Regions from separate parts of the Homo sapiens genome. Here region 2 is linked to region 1. A link means that fine-mapping ties the variant in region 1 to the expression of a gene that starts in the linked region. Tissue or cell type: subcutaneous fat. Region 1 holds a variant in brackets; the other region holds the start of a gene. All regions are shown on one strand. Distances are from middle to middle.

Region 1 (16,077 bases):
GGGGCTGGAAACCACAGAAATGCCTTCTCTCCCAGTGCTGGGGCCGAAGCCCGATATCTAGATGTAGGCAGGGCTGCGCTCCCTCCGACTGCTCCAGGGAGGGACCCCGGCCTCTGTCTGCCCTGGTGCCTCCAGGTGCCCTGTGGCTTGTGGCTGCCCCGCTCCAGTCTCCGCCTTGTTTTCATGTGGCCCCCATCTCTTCTCCCTGTGTCTCTCCTCTGAGCCTTCAGGAGGAGGCTGGTCATTGGATTTTGGGTTCTCCAGGATGATCTCACCTCAAGGTCCTTAATTGCATCTGCAGATGCCTGTTTCCAAATAGGGCCACATTTGGTTAGGACGTGGACACGTCTTTCGAAGCCACCATGCAGGCCGCTACAGGAGGTTTCATGAATTCATCTCAATTTCCAGAGGACCTGGTGTTGCTTGGCCGGCCCCCTCCAGCAGTGACTGGAGGTTGCTGAGTAGCAGAAGCTTTAGGTGGGGCAGGCCCTCACCTGTCTGCCACAGCGAACCCCACCCCTGACCCCCGACCCTGCCTGGGACCCCTGACCTGGTCTTCCCAGTCCATTTCACAGCCAGGTAAACTGAGGTAGCTCAGGGTGAGTTATTGCCAGGCCTGGGCTGCCCAGGGCACCCGGCCCACGGGGCAAACCCCAACACAGCCCTCAGTTTACCAATTCTCGTCACATGGAAGCCACCTGGGGGCTTCCCAGGGTGTTCTGTCTGCCCCCCTGTCCCCAAGGGTACCTTGTGTCAGGTTGGGATGACTCAGAATAATCAAATATGGCCACGTCTTTTGGGATGAGCAGCCATTTATCGTTTATCCTGGGGATCAGAGTTTTTTCCTCTGTAAAGCTGAATAATGTCGCCTGGTATAGCCCTAGGTAGTGTTACTTTGAAGGCTGAGAGAGAGAATGTGAAAGCGTTTTGGAGCCTGAAGAATACAGAAGGGAGAGACGTGGTGAGCATCAGGGTAGTGCAGTGTTATCTTCCTGAGCTGTACGGGGAGCGTGGTTAGGACAGGAGGGACAGACCGTGGTGAGCATCAGGGACAGTGCAGCGTCCCCTCCTGAACTGTACGGAAAGTGTCCTTAGAAACTTCAGGAACTCCTTCCGTGGAGTTTCCCTGTTCTTTGCATCCATCCTGTGCTCAGCCCTGAGCGAGGCGCTGGGGAAGGGGAGCGAGAAGGGCCTCTGTCTCTGTCCCTCTGGGCGTTACATGACTCCAGGAGTTGGGTATTGAACGTCACAGGCATGGCTGCCCCGGGCTGCCCGAGCGGCTGGACATAGGTGGTGGGTGTGTGGGGCACGAAGGGTGCCTGGCTCAGGCTTCTGGGGACAGCTGAGTGCAGGAGCTGGGGCAGCAGTGAGTCTAGGATGGAGGATGCTTTGTGGGGAGACCACAGGGAAGACCATCTGAGGAAGAGATCCTGTGTGACTGGTCACCCACAGAGAGATGGTGGTGAGACCTCAGCATGGCTGGCTCAGAGCCCCTTCCTGAAATGGCCTGGCATCACGGTGATACAGGAACAGAAATTCGGAGCAAGGGGAGGACTACCATGCCTCTCTTCTGCACTCTTGGGGGCAAGGCCAGAGCAGGAATTGGGTGTGGTGGGGGCTACTGAGCTTGGGTCCTATGTTCACTTTCTCCTTCCATTTATTTATTTATTTATTTATTTATTTATTTATTTATTTATGAGACAGGGTCTGGCGTTGTTACCCAGGTTGGAATGCAGTGGTGCAATCATGGCTCACTGCAGCCTCGACCTCCGAGGCCCAAGTGATCCTCCTACCTCAGCCTCCCAAGTAGCTGGGACTACTGCTATAGTATAGTCCAGTGCCTAGACTGTACTAGTACTATAGGCACATGCCACCACCTCTGGCTGATTTTTGTATTTTTTGTAGAGATTGGGTTTCACCATGTAGCCCAGGCTGGTATCAAACTCCTGGGCTCAAGTGATCTGCCCGCCTTGGCCTACCAAAGCCCTGGGACTACAGACATAAGTCACTGCATCTGGCCTAATTACTTATTTTTTTGGGGATGGGTCTTGCTCTGTCACTCAGGCTGGAGTGCAGTGGCAGCATCATAGCTTAAGCAATGATTTTGTCACTGCACTCCAGCCTGGCAAACCTCAAACTCCTGGGCTCAAGTGAGCCTCCTGCCTCAGCTGCCTGAGTAGGTGGGACTACAGGCATGAGCCACCACATCTGGCTAATTAAAACAATTTTTTTGTTTTTGCTGGAGACAAGGTCTTGCTGTGTGGCCCAGGTTGGTCTCAAACTCCTGGCCTCAAGTGATCCTCTGAACTCAGACTCTTCAGTAGCTGGGATTACAGGCGTGAGCCACTGGGCCTACTTCCTTTCCCTTTAGACTCAAAAATCCAGTGTAGGAGCTTTGTGGTCCATTGAGTAGGCTGCATTGCCTAGCCTCCCTGTTGCTGGAGAAGTGTATCAGCTAGCTTTTGCAGTGTAACAAACCACCTCAAAACATTGTGGCTTAAAACAGCGAGGGTTCATTATTTCTCCAGGTTCTGTGAGTTGGCTAAGCAAGATTTCTGATCCGGGCTGGCCTGGCTGTGGCTGGATGGTTGGGGATGGCCTCTCTCCCATGTTGGGGGCCTCTGCTGGGACAGCGATGCTCTCCCTATGTGCTCATTCATCCTCAGGAGATCAGCCCGGCCTTGCTCATGTGCTGGCGGGAGGTCCCGGTACCGACATAGCAGCCTGCATGCACAAAAGCTTTTCCAGCCTCTGCTTGCATCCTGTTTGCTTCGTCCCTTTGGACAAAGCAAGTCACAGGCCAAGTCCAGATTCAGGGGTGGAGAAATAAACTTCATCTCCTGGTGGGAGGAGTGACATTGTCAAACAGTCATATGAGGGAGTGTGAATAAATTAGGGGTCATTACTGTCATGCTCTACCACTGAGTGTGTGACTCAGTTCTGGCCAATGAGATGTGAGCAGCGTGGGTCTTCTAGGAAGTCTCCTTCCAGGGAATTAGGCACACCTCCTTTCTCCCTTCCACATTCCTTGCTGCTTGGAATGTGGATGTGATGGCTGGAGCTCTTGCAGCCATCTTAGACTATGAGGTTGAGAGCCACACCCTGGGAGTGGTGAATTAGTTGGAAGGAAGCTTGGTTCCTGTTGACTTCTTGGTGCCTTAGACTGCCTATCCCTGGACTTCTTTTACATGATAGGAAATTTACGTGGGGTCAAATTTCATCCTGACTGATACATTTGGCAAAGACTCTTGTCTCTCAGAACGTGAGGATTTGGGTGGCCTCTCCCCAAAGTTAAGTGGATGGACTTAACACACATGAGGAGGGCAGCTCAGGTGCTTCTCAGGGGCCTGGATACCAACCATGGGTTTCTTGGGAGAGATACTCTGGAGGAACCTCTGGAGTTAGGGCACTAGGGACAAACTGGCTTTGAAGGCCTGAGATCCAGATGGGGAGAGTGGCAGCCAGTACCACTGTGCCCAGCACTGGCCTCACCCCTGTAATCCCACCACCAGCCCCTGTAGTAGCTCTGTCACTATTTTACGGGTGGAGTAGCCAAGGGGTAAAGTGACTTTTGCATAAGGCTGTGCGACCCAATGTGGAATGAAGATTCCAACCCGCAAATGACCTCAGGACCCTGACTCTGAGCCGAGACTGAAGCAGCCCATTCATTCATTCACTCACACACTCATCCATTCATTCAGCACTTTCTGAACACCTTCCATGAGCCAAGCACACCTCACAGTGCTGGGGCACCGCAGGGGACAGAACAGACCAAGTCCTATCCTTGTGGCTTGCATTCTCATGGGATCAGAGACTCAGCCCCCTGGGGAAGCAGGGTGGGGAGAGAGGGCAGCCTTGCTGGGGAGGTCTGGGGGTCTCCTTGGAGTAGCATGTCTGAATGGAAGCCACGGCTGGCTTCGCACCGCGGCTGCAGCATGTTAGCTGGGTAACCTCAGGCAGGGTCCACATTGCGCTTCAGTTTCCTCACCTGTAGAACGTGGCCGTCGACCTCCTGCTGGTGGGGCTGGTGTGAGGAGGTGGGGTACCCCACGCTCACAGCAGCATGCAGGGGCTGCTCCTCTGCGAGGACTTGGTGGCTCTATTTGTCCCTCCTAGAGACCTCCAGTCTTGGTCTGGCTCTCTCTTTAGCATGGAGCAGGAGATGAGGAGGTGGCCCTGACTACATCACTGTTGCTTTCCCAGGGTCCTGCTGATGCCTGCTGGCTGGGACGAGAGGGGGGTGCGGTCAGAAAGGGCCTGGTGCCATGTGGCAAACAGGTCGGGTGCACAGGTCACGTGTGAGAGTCCAGCCGCAATAGCGGCTCAGGATCCAGCAAATGGGCTTGGGCCCTTTGCTGCAGAGCTCTTGGGTCAGGTGGTCACACGCTCCTGTGTGCTAGGTCCCTGACATGCCAGGTGCAGGTGGGGGGTGCCCGTCTGCAGTCACGAAGGCTGGAATTCAATCCTGGCTGGGACCCTCACCGGGCAAGTGCTTAGCTGGGCACTCACCAGGCACCCAAAAGTGACCACTGCTATAATCATGGCAGCAATAAGTGTGACATACTCCAAGGTGTTATAATTTAAGGAACTTTCTTATGTGAGCCACACATATACTTGCCCACATGCACACACAGGCACAACACATCTATACAAACATGCACACACACATACATGCTTCTGCACACCAACACACATGTACATGCTTCTGCACACAACACACACAGATACATGTTTCTGCACACCCACACACACGTACCTGCCTGGGCATGCATGCACACACGTACATGTTTCTGCACACCCACACACACGTACCTGCCTGGGCATGCATGCACACAGGCACACAGCACGTACCCATAAGACTCAAGCATGCACACGCCCCTGTGTGCCTTTGGTCTCAGCCTTGAGCTTCACTTACCAAATGTGCAGGGGGCAAAGCCACGCACAGGCTGAGGGCGCCGAGCTGCAGAAGGCCCTCCCAGGGAAGGAAGTGGCAGCAGCTGTTGGGTGCGTGTTATATCCATGCCAGGCTCCTGCTCAGGGCTCTCTGTAGATTTTCTTCCATAAAGAGAAGATTTTCTCATCCCCATCATACAGATGTGGGCATCTAGGAAGGGGTATGACCTGAGAGGCAGGAGGTGTCCTGCCTGGGAGTGGCTCCCCCAGGGCTGGGGTGGCTGTCATCAAGCCCAGCTGACTACCTCCCCTGGGATTTTTGGGTAGCTGGTGAAAGGTTGGCTGGACCACTCTGTATCATTGAGGCTCGGAATTGGTGGTTTTGGTCGGGGGGGAGGGCCGTGGGAGCCAGGCAGAGGTGCTGGAGAGAGGGAGACAGTGCTACCCTGCACGGGGGTCCTGGGAGCAGTGGAACGTTATTCAATGCAAGTCATCCAGAGCCTAGGCCTTTGGGACCGCCTGCCCCCACCATGACCCTGGGGTGCCCAGTGAGGGGCAGGGGGCAAGGTGGGCCTGAGAACAGGAGTGGAGGCAGCTGGCGGAGGGCAGCTCGGAGGGAGTCAAGCCCCTGCCCATCTGTCTCAGCCCGATCCCCAGGGACTCTGGGGAGGCCCCTGGTGGAGTGTACTGCTCCGAGGGCAGTGGGAGGCATTGCTTGGAGAATTAAAGAAGAGCGTGATCCCAAGTGGCCGAGAACTTGGAGTGAAGAGCAGTGTGCTCAGGACCCATGTGGAAAGTGGATCCCGGCTCAGCCATCCTTCCCCACCCCAAGGAGCCTTTGGATCAGCCCTGCCCTCCCTGCAGCTGCACCCGCACGTGTCTTCCCAGGCTCTGAGGGGCTCACAGGCGGGTTGGGGCGGAGGGTCCCATGCCCTCTGGGAGCCTGCTGGAGGCACTGCACTGCAGAGGGCATGAACCTGCAGATTCTGGCCTTGCCACATCCTCAGAGTGTGGCCGACGGCAAGCTGGCCTCTCCACATGCCAGTTTCTGCCTCCCTAACGTGGAGAGGGTACAGCACAGACAACAGATACCACGTGAAAAGCCCCTACCCAGTGCCTGGCACACAGCGGGTGCTTCGGTTCTTATCTCATTGGAACTGTACATGTGCCTGGGGTGGTAGGAATTCCTGTCCCTTTTCCAGGTGGGGCATCTGGGACTCAGACCCATAAGTGGCTTGCCCCAGGTCGCACGGCCAGTTTGAGGTAGGGCCCCATGTCTGCGTATATGATCCCATCGTGAGACAGCACCTCTGAGCAGCCAGCCTTCCGGGGCGGCTAGAATACTCTTCAAATCTACAAGGTTTCATTTATATCCAGGGACAGCCATGCCCAGGCAGCGCTTGGCCAAGAGAGAGCACTGTGCTGGGAGTCCAGAATCTTGGCCCCAAATCCCGGCAGGACCCAGGGCAAATGGCTTCCCTCCTGGCGAGTGCCTTTCCTCCTCTTGGGCACAGTTCCGATGTTACCTGGGCTGGGCCATGGAGAATGCCGCCCAAGGGCTGGTCCTGGGCCATTGTTTACCCTAGTTCTGCATGGAGGGTTTGACCTCACGCCCGGCTCCCCACCTGCCCGCCCTGCTGTGCGGCCTCCTCCCTGCCTCGGCTGACTCACAGCTCTGCTATGCGTCCTGCAAACATTCCGGAGCCCTCGCCCTGCAGCAGTGCTCTCTGCATTGGTGGATAATAGGGCAGCACTCTGTACCCAGAACGGGAGGCATTTGGGTCCCCTAAGAAGCATTTGTCATTCTGTCCCTGCCTCTGGGCTCCTCGCCTGTGATCTCAGAAACAGGGCTGGGTGTGTCTCTGCAGCCTTCCTGGGGAAGTTTTCTTTTAATCTGCTAGACCCATGGCGGGGGGGCGGGGGGAGGGGAGCCAGAACACTCTGATCTGTTCCTGCCAGCTCAGGGACCTCGGGCAAATCGAGTCAGCTCCCTGTGAGAGGCGGGAGTGGGCGGCATCAGTGGTTTGCAGAGACGTAGGTTGCAGAGCCAGTGAGCCGGTGACATCTTGCATGCAGCCTTGATCCAGGGAGTGAAGGAAGTGCTCAGGCTGGGTGTGAGGGCGGGGAGGGGGCTGGGGCAGAGCTGGCTTTTCTGTGCGCTCTGCGGAGACCTCTGAATCTCCTCTACCCGTGGTGGGGGAAGCCCCAGAGTTCCCTGCACCTTTGAGGTCTCTCCTCACGCCAGCGGGCTGCAGCCCACGGTAGCCCAGGGTCACATAGTGGGGCCCAGCTAGAGTTTGAACCCAGAACTTTGTGACCTTGCACCCTGCAAGCATTCCGCTTGACCATTAGGGTGGTCAGCACCTGTCCCTGCCGCCGAATGCCAGCTCTGTGAGGTTGAGGCCCCACCCACCACTGCACCCAACACTGAGCATGGTGGTGAGTGCGCGCCAGGTGCCCAAGAGTCCTTTGCTGAGTGGGCGACGGGTGGGGTCCTCCTACTTCCCCCTGCCCTCCCTCCTGGCCCTTGCAGGGGCTAAGTACCTTTGTACCCCTGGGTGCCCCCGCCACGACCCTCCCCGCTGGCCCACTTCCCCCTTCCCTGTTCTAGCCTTCAAGGTCTGCAGTCTCTGGTCTCACTTCTCTCCTCCCCTGGTTCCAGTAGACAGCGGCCAGAGGAGGCGCTCCTGGGGTTGGATTCACTGTTGGTTTTAGGAACTGAGAAAGGCCCCCAATCCCCGAGAAAATCCAGGGCAGAATGTGGCTGAGGAGCTGGAGGGAGGAGAGGAGACCAGGCGCCCTCCCAGGGCCTCCACCTCAGGCCTGTAGATATGAGGTCCCCCAAGGCCTTGCTGTGTGACCTGGGCAAGTTACTCCATCTCTCTGGGCCCGGATAGGGATCAATGGATCCTATCTTGTCGGAATGCGGGGGCATTGAGGGCAGCTGGAGAATGTAAGCTTAGCTCCCAGACTGGTGCTCGGGAGGGC[C/T]GGCGAGGGTTCTGCTACGTTTATTACCACCTTTACTGGCGAGTTCAAAAGGAGCAAATCAGCAAAGGCCCCAAAACACTGGGGCCCAACAGACACGCAGTTTCCCCTTGAACAATGCACGTGTTAGGGTTGCGACCCCCTCCCCCATGCAGTGAAAACCTGCATGTAACTTTCGACTCCTCCAAAACTGAACTACGAATAGTCGACTGTTGACCAGAAGCCTCACTGATAACATCAACAGTTGATGGACAGATATTTTGTATGTTACATGTATTACATGCTGTGTTCTTACAATAAAGTAAGAACATGTTATTAAGAAAATCATAAAGAAGAGAAATATATTTACTATTCAGTAAGTGGAAGTGGATCATCATAAAGGTTTCCATCCTTGTCATCTTACATCAAAGAGGCTAAGTCAGAGGAGGAGGGGTAGGAAGGAGGAGGAGGAGTGGGAGGAGAGGTTGGTCTTTGTGCCTCAGGGGTGGTAGAGGTGGAAGAAAACCTGCCTATAGGTTGAAACCCGTGTTGTTTAAGGGTCAGCTGTAGACAGATGGCTCCCAACTTAGGATGCAGCTTAAGGATCTCTTGACTTCACAATGGTGTGAAAGCCATATGCGTTCAGTAGAACATCAGTAAATTCCATGAAATAGTAAACATCTTATTATAAAGCAGGCTTTGTGTTAGATGATTTTGCCCAATTGTAGGCTAATGGCAGTGATCTGGGCACACATAGGGTGGGCCAGGCTGCGCTATGATGTTCAGGTGGATTCAATGCGTTTGATTCAGTGGATGGGTTTGCTGGAACGTAACCCCATCGTAAGTTGGGCAGCATTTGTCATGCGAACCACAGAGATAATTTACAATTTTTGAGTAGCCACATTAAAAAGGTAAAAAGAAACTGGTGAAATGAATTTTAATCACATTTTATTTAACCCAATCCATCCAAAATATTGAAACAGCACATAATCAAAATTATTGGGATATTTTGCATTCTTTTGTATGTACTAGTCTTAAAAACCTGGTACTTACATTGAGAGCACCTCTTACTTCAGACACTACATGTTGAATGTCCTACCTAGACAATAAAGTTGTGTTGAACAAGAGGCTATTTCACATGGCTTCAGTATTTTTAATTTTTTTTTTTTGAGAAGGAGTATCACTCTGTCGCTTAGGCTGGAGTGCAGTGGCACAATCTTGGCTCACTACAACCTCCACCTCCCGGGTTCAAGCGATTCTCCTGCCTCAGCCTCCTGAGTAGCTGGGATTACAGGTGCACACCACCACGCCCAGCTAATTTTTGTGTTTTTAGTAGAGACAGGGTTTCACTATGTTGGTCAGGCTGGTCTCGAACTCCTGACCTAGTGATCTGCCTGCCTTGGCCTCCCAAAGTGTTGGGATCACAGGCGTGGGCCACTGCGCCTGGCCCACATGGCTTCAGTTTTTAAAAATTAAATTTAATGAATTTTTCTGCAGGTCTGTAGTAGGTGTATGTACCTGTGGGGTCCATGAGATGTTTGGATACAGGCATGCAGTGTGAAATCAGCACGTCCTGGGGAATGGGGTATCCATCCCACAAACATTTATCCTCTGAGTTACAAATAATCCAATTATTGCTTCAGTTTTTAAATGTAAAATAATTAAAATTAAATATATTTAAAAAAAACCCCCACAGTTTATGAGTCTCACCAGCCATGTACAGAGTGATCAGCAGCTGTGTGGCCAGGGGCTGGTGTGTGGGTGACGCTGGCCCAGGCGTCATCTGTGTCCTTCTACCCTCATCAAACTGCACCTGTCCAGGGCCCTGTCCCTCCAGCCTGTGCCTCTGCTGAGTGGCCCCTGGCTCACCTGAGGCTCTCAGGCACACTTGTCTGTGAGAGGCTGAACCCCACCTCCTGTTTAGAGGCATTTAGTGGACATTCGAGGGCTGATCAGATGGGGCTTCAGGCTTCTCAAAAGGGAGGCAGGCAGGGGAGGGGCTTTGCCTCAGAGCCCTATCTGCTATGAGGTTGAGGAGGGCACACAACCTGGTGGGGTCTGAGTCCTTGGGCTGGGTGCTTTGGGCCACATGCAGCCCCTCTCTGGGCCTGTCCAGAGGGCTCTGATGTCCCCTCGAGCTCCAGTCTGTCTACCTAGTACTTGCCAGTGCCCATAAGTCAGGAGCTGGAGTCCTTCCCAGAGACCTAGCAGCACCAGACGGTGCCTGGCGGACAGACGGCCCTTCTTGGTGGCCTGGTGCATGGATGCGGGTGCTGGCCTCACTGTGGAGTGCGGTCCGGAATGGCCTTTGTGTCTCACCTGCCGCAGGGGTCTGACTCTGACCTTCCTCAGGGACCCTACCATTCCAGGGTTCTGTACCCCATGCGGCGACTGTCCAGCCTTGCTTGAGGCCCACCTCTCCCCATATGCTGATGACACCGTCGTCCTGACAATAGCCTGAGAGGCAGGTCCTGTGTGGGTTGTACTCTGTGGATGGGGAGACTGAGGCACAGAGAGGTGAAGAGATTTGCCCGGAGTTGCAGAGCTCACGAGTGGCAGAGCTAGGAATCGGACCGGCTGCCTGGCTCGCATGCTCCTGAGAACTGCTGAGCGACTGTCCCCTCTGATAGCCAAAACCCTGGCTCTAGTCTTGGCTGTTCAGCCTCCTGGTTGCAGCTTCAGTGTCTCCAACTGTACCATGAGTGAATGGGACCCTCTGATGGCTAAGTTCCATCCAGCTCTGAGAGCCTCTGCATTGCCTGTTACTTTTTATTTTTAAAGTGATTTTGTTTTGGCGAGGAGGCTGAGGGAGGGTGAGGCCAGGTGGGTGGGAAAAAACATGAAATCGCTCAGCCCCAGGCCCTCCTAGCAGCTTAGTCCCTACAGATTGACGGAGGCCTTGCACACATTTCCCAGAGGCCGTGCTGGGAAGCCCGCCCAGCCGGATCCCGGCGCTTGGAAAAGCCCACTCTGTGTCTTGGCACTCGGGCCTTACAGCTGCCGGGGACTGGCTGCGTGAGGTCCTGGGGCTGGCGTGGCTGCGGCCGGGTGGGTGGGTGGGGGGGGGGTGTGCCGAGGGGCATGCATCCATCACTGCCAGCAGCTTGCGTGGGCCCTGCCAAGTCGTGGGGGAACCGAGCCCAGGTGCCAACGTGCTTGGTAACTGGCTTGCTATTTGAAAAATTAAAGCGGTGTCAAGAATATCTAACCTTTGCATTCATATCAGGAGTCTGGAGCCGGGCGGGTGGCAGCCAGAGTGGGGCTGTTTGTGCAGGGCGGCCAGTGGGAAGGCACCCTCGGAAGGAGCAGATTACAGCAAAGAACATTATCCACCCAGCACCCAGGAGGAGGCACAGGTGATAACTGGGGAGGGGGAGCAGAAAGCACAGGCGAGCTGACCTCTCTCTAGCTGCTGGGACCCCTGCAGGAAGGCAGCCTGGTGCGCACCTACTGTGTGCCGGGAGAATGTGCCAGGTGCTGGGGTGGATGGAGATGGGGTGGCACCTCCAGGACACACTGCGCCTGGGCCCATGATACTTGCAGGGACCCACAGTGATGTTTTAATGTCTTTTAAAATCAAAAGAAAGAAATGAACTTTTAGGTTGAAGAAATGATGGTTAATAATGTCCCCACATATGACCTAAAGTGATCTACAGATTCAGTGCAATCCCTATCAAAATAGCAATGACATTCTTCACAGAAATAGAAAAAAAACAATCCTGAAAGTCATATGGAACCACAAAACACCCCAATAGCCAAAGCAATCTGGTGCTAAAAGAACAAAACTGGAGGCATCACACTACCTGACTTCAAAATATACTACAAAGCTATAGTAACCAAAACAGCATGGTACTGGCTAAAAACAGACACATAGACACATGGACCACAATAGAGGGTCCAGATGCAAATCCATGCATTAATAGCCACTTGATTTTCAACAAAGGCACCAAGAACATGTGTTGGGGAAAGGACAGTTTCTAATAAATGGTGCTGGAAAAACTGGATATTCACATGCAAAAGAATGAAGTTGGACCCATACCTTACACGATACACACAAAAAGCTCAAAATGGATTAAAGACTTATTATGAAACTACTAGAAGAAAGCATAGGGGAAACACTTCAGGCTATTGGTCTGGGCAAAGATTTTATGGCTGAGATTTCAAAAGCCCTGGCAACAAAAGCATATAAAGAACTTGAACAACTCAACAGCAAAAAATCCAAATAAGATTTAAAAATGGGCAAGTATTCTAAATAGACATTTCTCAAAAGAAGACATACAAAGGGCCAACAAGTATATGAAAAAAATGCTCAACATCACTGATCATCAGAGAAATGTAAATTAAAACCACAATGAGGGCTGGGCGTGGTGGCTTACACCTGTAATCCCAGTACTTTGGGAGGCCGAGGCGAGTGGATCACTTGAGGTCAGGAGTTTGAGACCAGCCTGGCCAACATGGTGAAACCTGTCTCTACTAAAAATACACAAAATAGCTGGGCATTGTCATGCATGCCTGTAATTCCAGCTGAGGTGGAAGGATTGCTTGAACCCAGGAGGTGGAGGTTGCAGTGAGTGGAGATCGTGGCAGTGCACTCCAGCCTGGGTGACAGAGCGAGACTTCATCACAAAAACAAAAACAAAAACAAAAAACAGAAAACAAAACCACAGTGAGATATCTCATCCCACTTAAAATAGAAATAAAATTATCAAAAAGACAAAAACAACCAAACAACAAATGCTGGTGAGGATACAGGGAAAAGTAACTCTTATACACTCTTAGTGGGAATTTAGAATAGTGCAGCCATTATGGACAACAGTATGGAAATTCCTCCAAAAATTAAAAGCAGAACTACCATATGACCCAGCAATTCTGCTAGTGGGTATGTATACAAAGACTAGGAGATCAGCATGTGAAAGAGACATCTGCACCCACATTCTCACTGTAGTGGTAGTCACAATAGCTAAGAGATGGAATCAACCTATGTGCCCATCAATGGATGAATGCATAAAGAAAATGAAGTGCAAATACATAATGGAATACTATACGGCCATAAAAAAGAATGCAATTCTGTCATTTGAGGAAAAGTGGATGAGCCTGGGGACCAGGGAATGGGAAGGGTGACGGGGAGAGGGGAATAGGGAGAGATTGGTAAATGGGTACAAAATTACAGTTGGGCAGAAGGAATGAGCTCTAGTGTTCTATGGCACAGTAGGGGGACTACAGTTAATAATTTATTATATATTTCAAAATAGCTAGAAGAGAAGAATCAGAATGTTCCCAACGTAAAGAAGAGATACATGTTTGCGGCGATGGACATACCAGTCACCTGCTGTGATCGTTACTTGTTGAAATGGGATCATATACATGTATTGAAATATCACATGTGCCCTATGAATATGTACGTTATTATGTGTTAACTAAAAAAAAAATCCCCACAAAATTCACATCCACTTGGAGCCTCAGAATATGACCTTCTTTGGAGATAGGGTCTTTGCAGATGTAGTCAAGTGAAGAGGGGGTAGTTCTGGAGCAGGGTGGGCCCTGACCCCATGGCTGGTATCCTCATAAGAAGAAGAGATCCAGAGACACAGGCCGGGAAGACCATGTGCCGATGGAAGCAGAGGTTGGGGGGATGCGGCCATAAGCCAGGGAACGCCAGGAACCAGCAGAAGCTGGCAGGGGCAAGGAAGGACCCTCCCTGAGAGCCTTCAGCGGACCCAGCCCAGCCGACACCTTGAGTTTGGATTTCTGCCTCCAGAGCTGTGAGAGAATAATTCCCACAATTCTGAGCCACCTGTGGTAATTGGTTATGGCGGGCCCAGGAAATAATACAATGTATAATATTGATCTGTCTCTACTCCGGCATAGTTAGATCAATAGAATTCTTTGCAGGGTGCAGTGGCTTATACCTGCAGTCTCAGCACTTTGGGAGGGCTAGGCAGGTGGATCACATGTGGCCAGGAGTTTGAGACCAGCCTGGGCAGCATAGTGAGACCATCTCTCTACAAAAAATACAAAAATTAGCCAGGTGTGGTGGTGTATGCCTGTGGTCCTGGCTACTAGGGAGGCTGAGATGGGAGAATTGCTTGAACCCTGGGAGGTTCAAGGCCGCAGTGAGCTGAGATTGTGCTGCTGCACTCCAGCCTGGATGACAGAGTAAGACCCTGTCTCAATAATAATAATAATAATAATAAAATAATTTTTTTAAATGGAAGAAGGAATCTAAGTGTTCCTTCAAGGTGATGAACCTTGCCATTCCTGGGTGGGGGCCTTGATGGCGTGATGAGAGTGGGTGTGGGGGTTTGCTAGGTAGGTGGAATCTGCATGTGCAGGGAGGCGGGCCAGGGAAAGAGATGGAGCACTGGAATCAGAATCTTACGTTCCAGTCCTGGCTCTGCCATGTCTGGCTGTGTGGCCTTGAGAGGGAACATGACTTCCATAAGCCTCAGCGGCCGCCTCTGTTAACTCAGGCTCCCCACTGTAGAGGATGCTCCCAGGGAGTCGGGGAGGAAGTGCTATCCGATCCCAGGAAATGCAGCTTGCAGAAGCCCAGGAAATGCAGCTTGCAGAAGCTCAGGAAATGCAGCTTGCAGAAGCCCAGGAAATGCAGCTTGCAGAAGCCCAGGAAATGCAGCTTGCAGAAGCCCAGGAAATGCAGCTTGCAGAAGCTCAGTGGGGGGCCTCGAGGGCTGGCCGGTTCTACTGCCTGCTCAGGGATCGGGGCACCTCATAAATAAGGATATCTGTCTTCTGGAGTTTTCCATCCATGTTTCAAAAGAGCCGAGCCCTCCTTCCTTCAGAGGGTGTCCTCCCCAGCATTGTGTTCCCCTGTGACCGTGTTTCGATGTATTTTATCTATTCCTGACTTTGGAGGCCTGGTGATGTCAGAGGCCTGTTGGCTTGTGGTCCCTGCCGGCTCTTGTCCTGGAGGTCCTCTTAGCATCGTGCTGGTCCTAAACAGAGGCTCAGAAGGCTGTCCCCAACCTCTGCTGTCCCGGAGCCCCTTCCCTCTGGGTGTCTGTGCATCTAGGCCAGGCCTTGCTCGAGGAGGGTGCAGGCAGCCTGGCAGGGGAGCCTCTAGGCATGAGCTGGCCAAGGTCCCTGGCACTGTCCGAGCTGCCCAGGGGTGGCCCGGAAAGGTTCCCAGACTGCGATATCTCGATGGGCCACCGTGTCTTAGCATGGGCCGCCTGGTTTTCCACAGAAGATGTCTGGCCAATCCTAGAGCCACCAAATTTCCAGGCAGTGGGCTGTCCCATGTTCCCAAGAACAACCCTGGGCTGGCTGCCACACGGCTACTAGCTGTGTGTCAGGCCTACGTAGATGTACTTTGCATACACTATCTCCATTAGAGACTGGGGTGTAGATAGGATTGCAATCCACAATTCCCAGATGAGGAAACTGAGGCACAGAGAAGCTGGTAGGTGGCCCAGCCATGATGGGAAGCTAGGGTGGGAAGCGCTGAGGGAGCAGCTCTCCTCCTCAGGTATTCAGACCTGCCTAATGGTGCAAATGCCTCAGCCACATTCCTGCCTCTAGGTGGGGCATCTTGCACGTGTGTTCCCGAGGGCTTTGCCTGCTGGCTGGGAATTCCTGGGCTAAAGAGCTGAGCACTTGCATTTTCTGACTCCCATAACTGTTGGTCAGAACCGAGGTGGGGTGTAGAGGTCCTGAAGCCAGCCCAGAAAGGTCTGGTTTCTGACCCACCCACCAGCTGTTGCCTTTCCCTGCAGACCGGGAAACGCGGTGTGGACTCTCACTGCTTCTCCGGCTTGGAAACGGCGTTCCTGTCTTTGCCTTCTCCCTGGGGCTGGAATCCCTCCTGGACAGGCCTAAGGCATGTCATGGGTCCCCCTCCCTCCCTGCTGTAACCCCAGAGCCCCCATGGGGAACCCGCAGCTTCCATCATCCTCAGGGGCCCAGTGTCCCAGGAGGGGACTGTGGAGAGGTGTTTGTACTCCTGGGTGTGTCTGGGCTGCCACTTGCCCAGGGTCTGGGAGGTGACCTTGTGCCAGATGGGGCTGGAAGCTCCCTGAGGGTAGGGGCGGGGCTTACCCTGGTGCACCTGTGTTGCACGTGGCCTCGGATCTCGTTCCTGTCATGTCTTGGGGTCTTTTCTATTCCCAAGGTTGTCGTAGGAAGGCGTTTGCTGACAAATGAGACCTGGCTCCCTCCAGATTCTGATTCTGTCCCTCTCTTCGTGAGCCTGGATGGGTCGGG
Region 2 (16,077 bases), 33 kb after region 1:
AGGAATGAAGCCACAGACCCTCGTGGTGAGTGTTACAGCTCATAAAGGCAGTGTGGACCCAAAGAGTGAGCAGCAGCAAGGTTTATCATGAAGAGCGAAAGAACAAAGCTTCCACAGCATGGAAGGGGACCCGAGTGGGTTGCCGCTGCTGGCTTTGGTGGCCAGCTTTTAGTCCCTTATTTGGCACCCCCACGTCCTGCTGATTGGTCCATTTTACAAAGCACTGATTGGTCCGTTTTTACAGAGTGCTGATTGGTGCAATTACAAACCTTAAGCTAGACACAGAGCACTGATTGGTGCGTTTTTACAGAGTGCTCATTGGTGCATTTACAAACCTTTAGCTAGACACAGAGCGCTGATTGGTGCATTTTTACAGAGTGCTGATTGGTGCATTTACAAACCTTTAGCTAGACAGAAAAGTTCTCCAAGTCCCCACTCGACCCAGGAAGTCCAGCTGGCTTCACCTCTCAATGCCTAGGCTAGCAGCTAGCCACAGGACAAGCCCCAGCTAGTCTGAAGCCAGGGGTCACGCCTGGGCTAGCCTCCAGCCAGAGGATGTGCCAGAGCTAGCCTCCAGCGGGGGTCATGGCTGGGTTAGCCTGAGCAGCCTCCTCTTCCTGGTAAGTGAACACTGTCACCCACTGACAATGGAGTCTCTGGGAGGCTCTGAACACATGTCGCTCAGGGTGGCTGTGAGACCACAGCATTTCTTTCTCTCTCTCTGTTTTTTTTTTTTTTAACTTTTATTTTAAATTCAGGGGTACATGAGCAGGTCTGTTACATAGGTAAACTTGTGTCATGGGGGTTTGTTGTACAGATTATTTCATCACCCAGGTATTAAGCCTAGTACCCATTAGTTATTTTTCCTGATCCTCTCCCTCCTTCCCTCCCATCCTCCAACTTCTAAACGGCCCTAGTGTCTGTTCCCCTCTTTGTGTTCATGTGTTCTCATCATTTAGCTCCCACTTATAAGTGAGAACATGCAGTACTGGGTTTTCTCTTCCTGCATTAGTTTGCTACGGATAATGGCCTATTGCTCCATCCATGTCCCTGCAAGGGATGTGTTGTCATTCCTTTTTATGGCTGTGTAGTATTCCATGATATATATGTGCCACAACTTCTTTCTCCATTGATGGGCATTTAGGTTGATTCCGTGTCTTTGCTATTGTGAATAGTGTTGCAATGAATGTACATGTGCAGGTATCTTTATAATAGAATGATTTATATTCCTTTGAGTATATACCTTGTAATGGGATTGCTGGGTCAAATGGTATTTCTCTCTTTGGTCTTTGAGGAATTGCCACACTGTCTTTCACGATGGTTGAGCTAATTTACACTCACACCAACAGTTTATAAGTGTTCCTTTCTCTCCAGAGCCTCACTAGTATCTGCTGGTTTTTTTTTTTTTTTTTGACTTTTTAATAATAGCCATTCTGATTGGTGTGAGATGGTATCTCATTGTGGTTTTGACTTGCATTTGTCTAATGATCAGTGACGTTCAGCTTTTATTCATATGATTGTTGGCTTCATGTATGTCTTCTTTTGAAAACTGTCTGTTCATGTCCTTTGGCCACTTTTTAATAGGGTTGTTCCTAAGCAAAAAGAAAAAAGCCGGAGGCATCACTCTACTCGGCTTTGAACTATACTACCAGGCTACAGTGACCAAAACAGTATGGTACTGGTACAAAAACAGACACATGGAGCAATGGAACAGAATAGAGAACCCAGAAATAAGACCACACACCTACAATTATCTGATCTTCGACAAAACTGACAAAAAAAGCAATGGGGAAGGATTCTTTATTCAATAAATGGTGCTGGGATAACTGGCTAGCCATATGCAGAACATTAAAACTGGACCCCTTCCTTACACCATATACAAAAATTAACTCAAGAGGGATTAAATACTTAAATGGAAAGCCCCAAACTATAAAAACCCTGGAAGACAACCTAGGCAAGCCTTTCAGGACATAGGCATGGGCAAAGATATCATGATGAAGATGCCAAAAGCAATTGCAACAAAAGCAGAAATTGACAAATGGGATCTACTTAAACTGAAGAGCTTCTGCACAGCAAAAGAAAGTATCAACAGAGTAAACAGACACCCTAGAGAATGGTAGAAAATTTTTGCAAACTATGTATCCGACCAAGGTCTAATATCCAGAATCTATATGGAACTTAAAGGAGACCACAGCCTTTCTAAGGTGACAGGAGATTTTCCTTGTGGCACATACTTGGTGACTACAGGGCACCTCCCAGTAGCTCAGTTCCACTTTCAGAGCCCTGGAGCATCATGGGGTTCTCATGCCCATTGTCCTTGGGCTGGGGTCCTGTTCCAAGGCACACTCCTGCCCACTCTCGCAAAAATCATTTTGTGTGCACATGGCAGGCCTCAAACATGTCTCCCTGTCTTTGTCCCCACTGTTTGCCTTCTTGTTTTATTTAGAAATCAAGAGAGAATCTAGGCTTGGGAAATGGCAGAGATTTCCCCAAGCTTAGCACAATTCTTTTATCTTTTTTTTTTTTAATTTAATACCATTAGGTCATCTCTTTTAAAAGAATTTCTGGGAAAATCTTTATTTTGTGTATTTCTCAAGCATCTTGACATTCCGTCTCAGAGTAATGGCCCAATCACTTCCTCCCAACTCCCCTTCAAATTCCCTGTCGGCTTTATCTCTTGCAAATGGCTCGGTGCTGCAGAGCAAACTCCCCGTCCCCGGCCCCTCCACCCCCCTCTCTGGGGACAAAGAAAGGGCCCCATACTCTCACTGAGGCCTTTGGGCAAACCAGATACATCATCACAGCCTAAGACAAGGAGGAGGCCCGGGACCCTTCAAAGATGCCTGCTCCAGAGTCCGCACACAAACCTCTGCCTATTAACTCTTTCAAAGAACGTTTGTTGGCTGCGAAAGTCGTCTGGGTTCATTGATAAAAAAAAAAAAAAAGATATTGTCTTTAGGGCTGCTGAATATATTAATGAGTTGTCACGGAGGACAGTTAGGATTTGCAAAGGGTGATAGTTACCATTCACCTACTTGTTGCCTTAAAAGATAAAATCATGTGCAAATGAAGACAGAGCTTTCAGGCACCTCCGCCAGAACACACTTCATTTGAGGCGACGGCAGGGATGCTACTAAAACCCCAAAGAGTTAAGCTGAAATGGTTAATATTCCTGTCTCTGCCCGCCTCCTCCTGTATTCTAATGTATGAACCCGCTCATTCAGATGTGAGTGGGACTTGGGGACAGCTTGCCTTCCCTACGCGATTGTGTATGGCCCCCGCTGAAATGTTCCTAAAAACACGATTTTGTAAACGCTTATGCTCCACCAGACATCCAGCGCATCTACTGGATGCCCAGCGTCTACACCAGACGCCCAGCGTCCCGAGTGGGGTTCACTTTGTCTCTTCACACCCAGGGACTCTCAGCCTGAGGTGAGGGAAAGGAAGGGGGGTTATTAAGAATTCTGACAAGGTAGGCTGAATAAATTGTGTTTTCTTTGTGAGCCTTAATCCGGTGTTGTATTGGCTTCTGGACATGGCTAATTTATTTGGAATTTCATTCTGTTCCTGACAGCGTCCTTGACTAGCTGTTTGATCACCCCGAGCAAAGTTACATACCAGCTTTCAACCGTTGGGAGGGCAGCGGCGTCCTTTTTCTCAAGTGCCTTCTCCTGGGTCGGGCTTTATGCCTGCAGCAGGGCGTTTCAAACGGCTGAGGCCATCCCTTGTTAGGGAGAGAAACCTCCCGGGCAGGGGTCTCCCTCAATGAGGAAGCCCTCCACTTCCCCCCACTCGTCCCACTGTTCGTGATTTTAATCTGCTTTTGTGGCGCAGGAAGAAAGAAAATTAATTTTCGCCCGTCTGTGTGTAGGGAGCATTTCAGTGGAAACCCGGTTTGAAATGCATGTTCTGTTGATTTCGGCAGCCTGCGCCGGCTGGGGTTTTGAGATGCAGCATTCTCAGGGGAAGAGGTGATGGGCCACAGGCCTTCGTGGGGTGGGAACTCAGGCTCCCCGTGGGCCCTGGACGGGGTCCTCATGTCCTGTGCTCCGTCTTGGCAGGAGTAAGAGTTGATGATGTTCATGCTCTCCCAACTCACCCATCTCTGCCATGGTTGCTTTTTTTTTTTTTTTTGGTTAAAGCAAGCATATTTTGCTGTTGCAAAAAGAAACAAAGAAAAAAATGATTTTCAACAGGACCCTGACATGTCTGAGAATGTCTCACTGTCAACAAGGCTGTAGGTGGTGGTTTTACAATTTTGGCGGAATCTGTTCTAAGGAAAACACGTGCTTCTTTTAATTTGGCCTCCCAGCTCCAATGCACGTGGCCGTCCTTGCTGAGAGTCTTCTGGGTGCCTGGAACTGTGCTAAGTCCTGGGGGATTCGGCGAGAGCTCGAGTTCTAGAAACACATGGAAGAGTTCAGAGGATGTTGGTGCTATGAAAATAACAAAACCAACCAACACACTGAGGCCCTGGGGGATGTGCCTGGTGGTCCCTGGGGGAGGGCGTTCAGTATTATTCCTGGGTCCTGCATTTGAGTCAGCCAAGTCCAGCTCATCTCGATGACATTTGGGCGGGGATTTCCCCTGCAAAGCACTCTTATCCCCAGCCTTGCTTGCAGAAGCTGGGAAGGGATTATCATCCCCTCACCGTTTTTTTTTTTTTTTTTTTTTTTTGAGATAAGGTGTTGCCCAGGCTGGAGTACAGTAGCTTGATCATGGCTCACTGCAACCTCTGCCTCCCAGGTTCAAGTGATCCTCCTGCCTCAGCCTCCTAGCTAGGTGGGACAACGAGTGTGCACCACCACATCCAGCTAATTTTTGTATTTTTTTTTTTTTTGTAGAGATGGGGTTTTGTCATGTTGCCCAGGTTGGCCTCGAACTCCTGAACCTTCTCACGTCGGCCTCCCAAAGTGCTAGGATTATTTTCCCCTTTTATTGAGGGGAGGAAACTGAGGCCCAGTGATGCTTCAGTGGAGACCAGCTTGCCTGGGGCTCACAGGAAGCTGTTCACAAGGTTCTTGGGGCTCTGTCCCAGGCTGTCACCTGTACTGAGGGCTGGTCCTGGGCGGGGACCAGGCTTTGGGGGCAAGAACTTGCACCTCCTTGTTACTTCCACTCCAGGCCTTCCCCACGGAGCTCACCTGTGGAGAGGTTTCCTCTGCCAAGCATTTCATCAGGAAACAGTGAGTGAGGGTGCGTCACTCACTGCTCTGTCAGCGTTGAACATTTGGGTGCAGGAAGATGCCTTGGCTCTTTGAGGTCCCGATGGCAACTTGCATCCCCAGATCCATCCTCAGAGGCCCGGGGCTGGGAGCATCCCCGGATCCATCCTCAGAGGCCCGGGGCTGGGAGCATCCCCGGATCCATCCTCAGAGGCCCGGGGCTGGGAGCCACCACCGCCCAGCTCCATGCGTTCCCATTGGCGGGGTCTGGGTCTGCGCTGATGAGGCGCTCGTCACTCTTATCCTGGATTATATTCACAGGCGGGTAACTCGGGGGGTGGTGTGATGGGGAGACACAGGAGGGAGGAGCAGGGAGGGCAAGATGAAGGGGAGCAGTCTGGGAAGGGGGCGACTCCAGGCACAGCCGCACGTCCCTGGGATTTTCAGGGGGAGCTCTGGGGGTTCAGAGTGGCCTCTAGTTTGTCCTGGTCCAAAGCAGGGAAGCTGGGCTACGTCCTGCCCAGGTCAGCCTTAGGTTAAGGGCTGCCTGGGGGAGGGAACTTCCTGGGCCTTCGGGTCTCTGTGCACTGGGGTGGCTCCTGTGGCCCAGAATGCCCTGGAGAAGGGTCCTACTGGAAGCGAAGGTGCAGGGCAGCAGGGCCTGAGGCGCAGGAGCTGGTGGAGGCTCCCAGCACAGGTCGCCGCCCCAGTCACATCACTGCTGATGGTGGGGGGACTTGGGGAGTTTCCCCCGAGAATGGGAGGTCTCACAGTCCCCGTGCTGCAATGCTGTCGGTGCACTGTGTCTGCAACGTGCTCATGGTCACTTGCTTTTTCTCTGTGGCCCCGGCCGCTTTATCCAGCAAGTAGCCCCCTCTCCTCTCCGGAGAAGCCGAGCCTGGATGCCGCTGGGAGGAGGTCACTCCCTTCCTGTCTCGAAGGGCATGCCGTCCTCGTCCTTGCTGACTCCCAGAGGCCCAGGGACGTCTGAGGGGGAGGGGCCGGGCCTCCTTGACCCCTGCGTGTGGACACCATGTGACTGGGGTGTGGTTGACTCTCTGTGTCCGATTGGGTGCTTGGCAAACACAGAGAGTTTTGTCCAAGGCCACCTTGGTCCCCACCTGTCCAGGTTGGGAGGTGCCCTGCCTGGTGTGGCCTGAGCTGAGCGCCTCTGGCCGGAGCAGACGGCCCCGGCTCCCCCAGGACATGTCACCTGGAGAGGTGGCCCTTTCAGGTAAGGGACATGCCCATTGGCAGCAGCCTCTGCCCCCTCCCTGCATACACAGCTGCTCCCATCTGGGGACCCTCACCCCACGTGCGGATGGGCTTCCCCAGGAAGTCGGCAGGACTTTCCCTGGCCTTCTGGAAGTCCCCATCAAGCAAATGCTCTATCGATGACTTACTCTATGACGGGGTCCAGAGAGCTAACTCCCCACCCACGTTCGAAGTGATCTTCAAACCGCTGCGCGTGGAAAACAAGCCCAGAGCTCAACGTTCCCTAAGTGAGTGGCCTTTGACAGCAGTGCCAGGCAGCCCAGTGGGTGCAGGGCACACCACAGATGGAGGAAGGGCCAGGCATGCTTCCCAGACAGCCTCTGCCAGTCCAGGCAGGGGCTCCAGGGTGGCTGCGGGAAGGCAGCTTAGGCGGTGCCCGGCCCAAGGTGAGTTGGCATCATGCTCCACTTCCCGTTTGAACGTGTGGTCCCGTTTGAACCTTCTGGAAAGGCTTGGCAGGGAGGACACTCATTTTGTAGACTGGGAAGGAACTGAAGAGCTGGCTTCCGGCGACCAGCGATGGGCCCCAGATCCCTGTGGCCAGGAAGGCCCCCATTGCTGTTCTCTGTAGCTCAGGCTGGACATTTGCTGGTGAGAACTGGCCGGACTCCCAGGACCCAGCCGCCAGAGACCTCTGTTCCTCACGCTCAGCCCCCTAGCTCCAACTGGGGCCCCTTTGCTTTACAGGATGTAGGCTTGGAGTTAGAGGGGGCAGTTCTGGCGGTTTATCTCTCACTCACAGAAACTCGGCTGTGAGAGGCCAGAGCTGGACTTGGGGGGCAGAGCCTGTAGAGGTCAATGTGTCCTTATTGGGTGTGCACACGTGTGAGTCTGTGTGCACACACATGTATACATGTGTATGCGTGTGTGTGTGTGTGTGTGCGCGCGTGTGGCAGTCAGAGAAGGCTGGGCAGACACTGTTATTTCAGAAAAGATGTGGAGGCCTTTCTGAAGGCATCCACTGAGAGGCAGGGGCCAGGATCTCTGTGCCCAGGCGCTGGGCGTGGCCCCTGAGAAGTGCTCTCTCCCCTAATCCTTCAAAGCAGGAGGTATTTGCTTCACTTTCTAAGGCAGGATCTGCGGCTCTGAGAGGTTGCACAACTTGCCCGAGGTCACTCAGCTAGTAGAAGGCAGGACTGGCCTCCGGTCCAGGGTGACTGTGAGGATGTCAGGGGACCCTGCAGGCCTGTGCGCCCCAGCTTAGGGCTACAGGTCCCACCTAAGGCTTCTTGATGGAGGTTGGAGGGGCGAGCTGGAGGGAGGTGCTGCTGGGGGTCCACCGGTCCCCTTCCTGGGGGATGAAGCCGGTTTCCCGCGCTGACCCCCTTGCCATCAGAGGCCCAGAGCGCGGTCCTTGTGCTGCTGAGCTGTGTTTGGGGCCGCCTGTGGGCTGTGGCCGCCTGTCCTCATCTTCTCCCCTTTTCTCCTTGGCTTTTCATCCTCAGGCTCCGTCCTTCTTCCCCGTGGTGGCCCCAGCCTCCCTGCCAAGCTTCCCGGCCCCCGCCCCATCCCGGGCCTGCTGCTGCGGAGACCGTGGGCCGGCGCTGGACGGCGCGGCCTCCAGAAGTGATAGCTAATTGGGGAGAGAAAGGGCCCAATTGTCTGGCGGGGCCGGAAGAGCCGCGTGGGCTGCTGAAAGCGTCGGGAGGAGGTGGCCGCTTCGCCCAGCAGCTGCCGCCGGGGATGTTTGCAGATTACGTCAGCGCTGGCGAGCAGGGGGCGCGGGGACAGCGAGGGGGGCGGGCTCCCGGCGGCCTCCCGCCCCCCAGGCCCCTGGACAATGCTGTCATTGTCAGCACGGAGAGTGGTTAATTCTGGATGAATGGTACACGGGCCTCTTGACCAAGGAGGCTGCTCGTCGTCCCCAGTCTGTCCTCTCACATGCCAGGGAGGCCCCGGGCTGGAGTCTGGCGGGCAGATCTGGCCTGCTTGGTGGCACCAGAGAGAACAGGGCGGTCCCTTGGGGGCGCCGGCTGCAGAGGCCCCAGGCTGGACGGAGCTTCCTGTCCTGGGTCTGCACAGCAGCCACTTGGCAGTGCCGGGCTAGGGTGGCAGGGCCCCACTGCATCTCGGTTCCAGGGCAGAGGCTGCTGCTGCCCTTTGGGGCTGACTTCAGGCATGACCTCCTGGCCAGGTGGCAGCTTTGGCCCTGACCCGCTCCTGGCCCTGCTGGTGGTGATCCTGCTAGCACGCCTCATCCTGTGGTCCTGCCTCGGGACCTACATCGACTACAGACTGGCCCAGCGGCGGCCCCAGAAACCCAAGCAGGACTAAGCCTCTGCAGGCTGCGGCCTCCACGCGCCCTGTCCCGAGACTCAGCCGGCCCTTCCAGTGGTGGTGGGAGGGAGGGGAGCAGGGCAGGCGCATGATCCCCATGTCCCACCCCTGGGGCAGGAGCTCAGAGAGGCCTGAGATGGATCGTGCCTTCCCAGACTGACCAGGGCTGTCCCGTAGAGGCAGCTGGCCATGTGGGGAGATGGAGGGGCCGGCCTTGCAGGTCCATCACCAGGTTCTGGGGTCCCCGGTTGCAGGGAGTGGTCCTGGGGGTGGGTCTTGCTTTAAGACCTTCTCTGCCTCCAATTCCTTATAAATATGCCTGCAGGAAGAGCTGGGTAAGCCAGAGGACTCAGGTGGAGGTGCCACAGAGACAAATGTGACCTCATCACAAGCTGGCCCTGTTACCAAAGGCCACGTCCTGTCTCAGCTCACCACCCTCATAACTAGTCTCCTCCTGCCTCCCAAGGGACGAGATAAGTGCCGATGGCTGTCCTGATTTCTCCAGAGCAGACCCCTGGGAAGGGTCTCAGGACGCACTTGTGAGGCTGAGTTGACAAGCCAGACGCACTTGGCTCTGGTTGACCCTCTGCACACTCTCTAACGGTCTGAACAGTTAGGGCACAATGATCCCTGCCTCCCTCCCTCAGCAGGATATCATGTAGGGGACAATTTAGGGGACAAGCCAAGGCACCCATCAATGCCCTCTGTTCATCTGTTCCTGCAAGTGTGTGGCTGGGAAGTGCCCAGGAAGGCTGACAGGGCAGGGAAGTTGATTTGAGGCCAAGCATCCAGTGCTCCTGCTCCACCTCCGTAGCACGTTAGCCGTGATGCCAGTGACTTAACCCACAGCTTGGGGAAGCTCAAAGGCTCCACATTCGAGCCTCTTGGGGGAAATTCGGCAAACACCCATGTCCAAGTTCCACACTGTATTTCCTGGGATCGTTCCAGCAGATCGTGGATTGCAGCGAGGGCTGCTGACTGCATGCGGAACTGTGAGATGGAAGGGACTGTGGGCGGCAGCTCCAGGGAGGAGCATCGAACCAGATATCGTCTCTGGGAGGCTGGGCCTGGTGATGTGGCAACGTCTTGCTCCCTGAGAGGTGATGGGTATGCTAGGGATGCTCGCTCAGGGAACGTGGGCCAAGTCCTCTGAACACGAAGCTCGCAGAGGGGGTGATTCCTGTGAATTCTGAAAGGACTTGGGGGCGTCCAGCAAGAGCAGGAGCTTAGATGGTGGTTCCAGGGCTGGTGTTGCTGACTGGGACGAGTGGACCCCCAGGGTGGGCATGGAGTGGGGCACTGGCTGGGAGCCTCTGCCTTGCTGTGTCCTGGCTGAATGAACCCAGGTGAGGACCAGAAACGCTGTTATCACTGTTTCTGCGGCACCCGATACACTCACCTATGCCAAGGAAATTTTTTTTTTTTTTTTGGTTTCTACAGGACTTGCTGTGCTCAGATCCTCCATTCAAGAGAGCTACAGACACGGGGGTGCTGGTGAGCAGGAGCCGAGACCATCTGGGGTGGGACCGACCAAGAGTTTGAGGTGTCCAGGGGGTGACGTGAAGATGACCTATTGCAGAGGGTCCCTTCTCATTCACGCTCTGAAGTCTGCACAGGGGCAGGGGCTACCGTGCTCCATTTCAGTTTGGCCTCTGTTGTATCAGCCAGAGGCCAGCAGAACTCTATGGTCACTCCCCCGTGTCACGGACAATTTGCCACCTCCACCGGCAGCCCAGGGCTCTGCCTGAATATTCTCGCCTGATCGTAGGATTGTGGGGAGGGATATTCTCATTGATCTCTAAGGAAAATATTGTTCGCTTTTTAAAAACATGATCTGGTACCATTTCATTGATCTCTTTAAGGAAGAAAAATCACATGGTTGTCATGAGCATGTACCGACAGAGCTAGGAGGGCCAGCTGTTCCGGGTTGCCCAGGGCTGTCTTGTTTTTAAAATGGAAAGTTCGATGTCCTGGAAAACCCCTCAGTCCTGGGCAAACCAGGTCACGCTGGATAGAAGGAGTTAGACATTCATATGATGTGCCGATGTCTTGCCAGTTGTAGAGTTTTGTGTAAACCTGTGTGTGGCCTGCGTGTCCACATGGGTGTGTAGGATGGCACCTACACACATACCTGAGGTCACCTCTTGGTCCAGTGAGCCAGAATCCTGGGACTTCATCATCTTTTTTTTTTTTTTTTTTGAGATGGAATCTCACTCTGTCACCCAGGCTGGAGGGCAGTGGCGCAATCTTGGCTCACTGCAACCTCCGCCTCTGGGGCTCAAGCAATTCTCCTGCCTCAGCCTCCCGAGTAGCTGGGATTATAGGCGTGTGCCACCACGCCCTGCTGATTTTTGTATTTTTTAGTAGAGATGGTGTTTCACTATATTGGCCAGGCTGGTCTTGAACTCCTGACCTCAAGTGATCTGCCTGCCTTGGCCTCCCGAAATGCTGGGGTTACAGGCATGAGCTACCATGCCCGGCCTCAGAATCCTGGGACTTCTGCTGGAGCCAGGGGTCAGAACAGACTCCTCTACTGGGACTGCCTGGCAGGGAGGACAGACGCTCAAGGCGGCCCCATGAGAACACAGCCACCTGGAAAAATGGTGGAAGGGAAGATTCTGCCAACCTCCTCCGACTCCCTATCTCAGTTACACTGGTCCATAATTTCTTTTCTTTTTCTTAAGTCTGTTTCATTGGTTTCTGTTCCTGGAAAATGGACACAATTCTGATGAATTCATGTATTCTGCATCCACGTGTCAGCATCTCCAGCCTTGTGACGCAGTGCCTGGCTCAGAACAGGCAATCAGGCCATGGCATCTGAATGAATGAGAGGGTGTGCCCTGGCCGTATCTCAGGCAGCAGATGCATTCAGCTGCAGGTAACAGACACGTAGACAAACAGTGGCTTAAAAAAGAGAGGCTTTAAAAGTATTTTGTTTTTCTTTCTTCACGTAGCAAGAAGTCTGGCATTTGGCATTCCCAGGCTGTGGCGTGACAGCTTTGTGAAGTTATCAGGGTCTCAGACCCTGACATATTTCTGCTCTGCTACCCTCAGCATGTAGATTTGATCTTCACGGCTACAAGAAACCTGCTGCTACTGCAGGCATCTTACACGAGTTCCAGGCAGGAAGAGAAAGGAAAGGGTGACAGAGACAGAAAGCAATGTCCCCAGATACCCTTAGTTTTCCATCTCATAAGCCAGAATGATGTCACGTGGCATCCCTGGATGCACAGGAGGCTGAGAGATAGTGGCGTTTGTTAGCTGGTCTCCTAGCCATCCTGAATGCCAAGTTTGTTATAAAGAAACAGAGGCAAAATGGCGATCAGGCAGGCAACTGGGTGGTCTCTGCCACGGGCCCCTTGGCCATTCTTTGTAATGATGGTCTTTGTCTTGGACCCTATTTTGGATATTTGGGCACCTTTGTGGTACCCTTATGTGCTGGTTTTGCTGTTGTCTGCCCTTCAGGAATAGCAGCTGAGTCAAGCTGTCCTTGGCTGCTCCAATCTGGAGTCAGAGGTTGGAGATTTCCATGGCTCCCCATGGCTCCTTGGGGCCTCCTAAGAAAATGTTTTAATAAGGAAGTCCAAGGCTGAGACAGACATGCTCCTTCTTAGAGACACATGGGAACATGCCTCTGCTCACAGCTGGTAGCCACAGATGTAAACCGTAGCCCATGGAACGGAGACAGTGAAGAATTGATGGATAAATGAATAATGATGATGGACAGCAGATGTATAAAAGGCATAAAAGGATAGTGTTAGGGCTGGAATGTCTTCCCCCCAATTCATATGTTGAACCTTTAATGCCTAATACTTCAGAAAGAGACTGTGTTTGAAGATATGGTCTTTACAGAGGGAATAAAGTTAAAATAAGGTCATTAGGGTGAGCCCTAATCCAAAGGATGGGTGTCCTAATCAGAGGAGGAGATTAGGACCCAGACACACACACACACACAGAGCCAGGTGAGGACACAGGGAGAAAATGGCCACGTACAAGCCAAGATGAGAGGACTCAGGAAGAACCAGCCGACTCCACCCTTCAAAACTGTGAGAACATAGATGTCTGCTGTTTGAGCCACCCTGTCTGCAAGCAGTCAGCAAGCATTCATTGAGTGCTTGCAGTATTCAAGGCACCACAGATACAATGTTGAATAAGGCAAAGCACCTGCCCTCAGGTAGCTTGCAGTCAGGGAGGTAAGGGTAGTGGGCAGAGAGACCTGGAAACAGATATTAGACCTGCACTAAGCATGTGTGGTTATTGAACAGTAAAAATGCCACCACAAATTGCGATATGATGTAAGTAAAATGCGTACTGGCTATTGAAGACTTGGCACAGAAAAATAATGTAAAATCTCATTAGTAATGGTTTTATATTGATTACGCATTGAAATAATACTATTTTGGACAGATTGGGTTAAATAAAATATTAAATTTGATTTCGCCTGTTTCTTTTATTTTCATTACTTATTGGCCATGATATTTTATTTAACTTTTAACTTTTATTTTAGATTCAGTGGTACATGTGCATGTTTGTTATACAGGTAAACTCATGGGGGTTTGGTGTACAGATTCTTTGTCACCTGAGTACTAAACTTAGTACCCAAGAATTATTTTATCTGATCCTCTCCCTCCTCCCACCTTCCACCCTCAAGTAGGCCCCAGTGTTTGTTGTTCCCCTTTATGTGACCATGTGTTCTCACAAGTGAGAACATGTGGTATTTGGTTGTCTGTTCCTGTGTTAGTTTGCTATGGACAATGGCCTCCAGCTCCACCCATGTTCCTGCAAAGGACATGATCTTATTCTTTTTTATGGCTGAATAGTATCCCATGGTGTATATGTACCACTTTTTCCTTATCCAGTCTACCATTGATGGGCATTTAGGTTGATTCACCTATTCCTTTTAATAGGTCTTAATATGGCTAGTAGGAAATTTAAAATCACATAGGTAGCTTATATTATTTTTGTTATGGACAGTGCTGTGCTGGACCTTCATAATGCAGTAAAAGGGTGGCGGGTGAATGCATGGTGTGTTACAGGAACGCAGGAGGGAGCTTCTTGGAGGAGGTTCTTAGTCCATTTATGCCTGAGGTTGCCGTTTTTTAAATTTTTGCAATCAGACCTTGGTGATGACCTTGAGCAGTAGGATATATAAATAACTCCCACATGCTCAGCATTCCAATAATGGAACACTAGGCATAAATGGGTTGAGTGATAATGTTTGGACTGCAAACCAGAACCTATGAGATGCAGCTAAAGCAATTCTTGAAGGGAAAGTTATAGCCTTAAATATTCATATTAACCAATAGAAAGAATGAAAACATATGGATTAGGCATATGGCTCAATATATTGAACATAATAGAAAAAACTAAGAAAAACAGAAGGAAGAAATAAAGATAAGAGAGGAAATATATGCATTAAGAAGCAATAGAATTAACAAATGTACCCAAGTGCCAGATTTTTCAGGGGCATAAAAAAGGATGCTGTTAGTCAATCCTATCAAGAAAAAAGAAGAAAACATAAATGAAATAAAAGTCTATGGGGAAAACAACCGCAGAGACATAAAATGGCAAATAACCACAGGAAACTGGCACTGGGATACATAAAAGATTTTGAGACTTTGAAAACATAGAAAATATAATTTATTTTAAAAAAGACTCCAAAAGAGATGTAAAGTCTAAACAAATTGATTACCATAGAAGAAATAGAAAGTTGTCAAAGTCGACTTTCCTTAAAAAAAAAAAAAAAAAGCATCAGGCCTAGAATGTTTTATAGGAGGATCCAACCACACCAAAAACGAACAGGTAATTAAACACTATTTAAACTGTTCTAAAGCATAAAAGAAGGAATATTTTTAACTTCTTTTTATGTAACAAGCATATCATTGATGCCAAGATCCATCATAGATGGCATGGAAAGAGAAAACACACACCAGTGTTGTTTGGGAACATTGATGTAAAAATATTAAGTCCCTGAATTAAGCAGCACATTAGGGGAGTAAATCATTGCAACAACTGAGCGGAATGGATTCCAGAAATGCAAGGATGGTTGGGTATTAGAAAAACAATTAGAAAAGAGGAAGAAATCAGAGGTGCAAACACTGGGAAGGAAAATCATTATTTACAGAGAGATGGATGATTTTCTTGGAAAATGGAAGAGAGTCAACCAGAAGCAATTGCAAATGCTAATACCAGAATTCAGTCAAGTGAGTGGGTCTAGATCAATACAGAGAAACCATACACACAGCAATCCACTAGATGAGAAGCATGAAAGACCCCATTTATAAGAGCAACATAAAGAGCAGAAACATGGTTGGCCACTGTGGGTGATCAAGTTAGGGCTCACAGTGATTTCCTTTAGTCTGTTTTCATGTGCAATCGCCATGGGTGCTGTAGACAAGATTTATTATGGACACGAGACCCTGACAGTGTCGAGGCTGGTGGAGAAGCCCACACAAAGCTGGTGTTTGGCCTGGGGGCCCAGGTGACCTGCAGGGGAAGCTGGTGGCTTTGCCATGTTGCTGAGACTAGGAGGCCTAGATAAGCTAGAGGAACAGCCTCGTTGGAGGGGCTGTGGCCGGGGACCACTGTGGGCTGGGGACTCCACTTGGACTGTCAGAGCACAGAAGCTGACTCTCCTTCCCCACGGCTGCCAAGTCCTGTGCTCCTGGACCTGTCACTACCGTGGAGCCAAGAAGACACAGAAAAAAGCCATCACATTTTTTGCGGGTGGCGATGGTGGGTGCCTCCATATAGGGTGAGTACTTGGGGTGGAGGGGTTCCCTGGGCCATGGGACTTTCAACACTAAAATGGGGAGGGTCGTGGCCACATTGGGATGGCTGGTCATCCTGTTTATAGGACAGGATGTAGTAAAGTGTAGTAAAGAATCTGACCCAAAGAGAAGTCTAGTCTTTGTCCTTGGTTCCTGGGAGGGGATCTCCAGGCCCTCGGGATGTCCTGCTTGAGAAGAGCATCTTTGTTTGCCTGTCATGAGGGGACATTTGGGTCACGTGGTCTCCTTTTGACCTCTGGAGGGGCAGAAAACTAAAGGTCAGTCACTTGGGCATCAGTGCATCATGCCCACGTGATCGTGATCAAGCCCCAGTAAAAACTCTGGACACCAAGGCTCCGGGGACATCTGCTTGGCAATACTCGACGCATCTCATCACGCACCATTGCTGGGAGGAATTCATGCGGTCCATAACTCCACTGGGAGAAGGAGATTGGAACTTCCTTGCACTCTGCCCCATGCATGCCTTCCCTTGGCTGATTTTAATCCTTTCACTGTAATAAACCATAACTGTAACCATTACAACTTTCAGTGGGTTGTTGAAATGGAGGATGATGAACTTGAGGACCCCT

What was found.
Region 2: SMIM38 starts here. The variant in region 1 is fine-mapped to the expression of SMIM38 in subcutaneous fat (GTEx, PIP 0.99). The same link has a PIP of 0.9 or more in visceral fat.

The regions. Positions count from the first base shown.
Region 1 is chr11:69,116,346-69,132,422 of GRCh38, forward strand. No RefSeq gene overlaps it. Among named protein-coding and RNA genes, the nearest start is that of SMIM38, 32 kb to the right of the region's middle. RefSeq lists enhancers at 4,050-4,678, 6,436-6,730, 6,450-7,265 and a silencer at 6,436-6,730. The variant C/T (reference allele first, on the strand shown) is at 7,882.
Region 2 is chr11:69,149,289-69,165,365 of GRCh38, forward strand. SMIM38 (small integral membrane protein 38) reads left to right here and starts at 6,647. Exons shown (of 3, transcript NM_001369201.2): 1 at 6,647-6,826; 2 at 7,886-10,063; 3 at 10,158-13,152. The coding sequence starts at 8,559. The coding sequence ends at 8,714. All of the region lies in intron 2 of LOC338694 (a long non-coding RNA gene), which reads right to left. RefSeq lists silencers at 4,473-4,767, 8,013-8,372 and an enhancer at 6,201-7,128.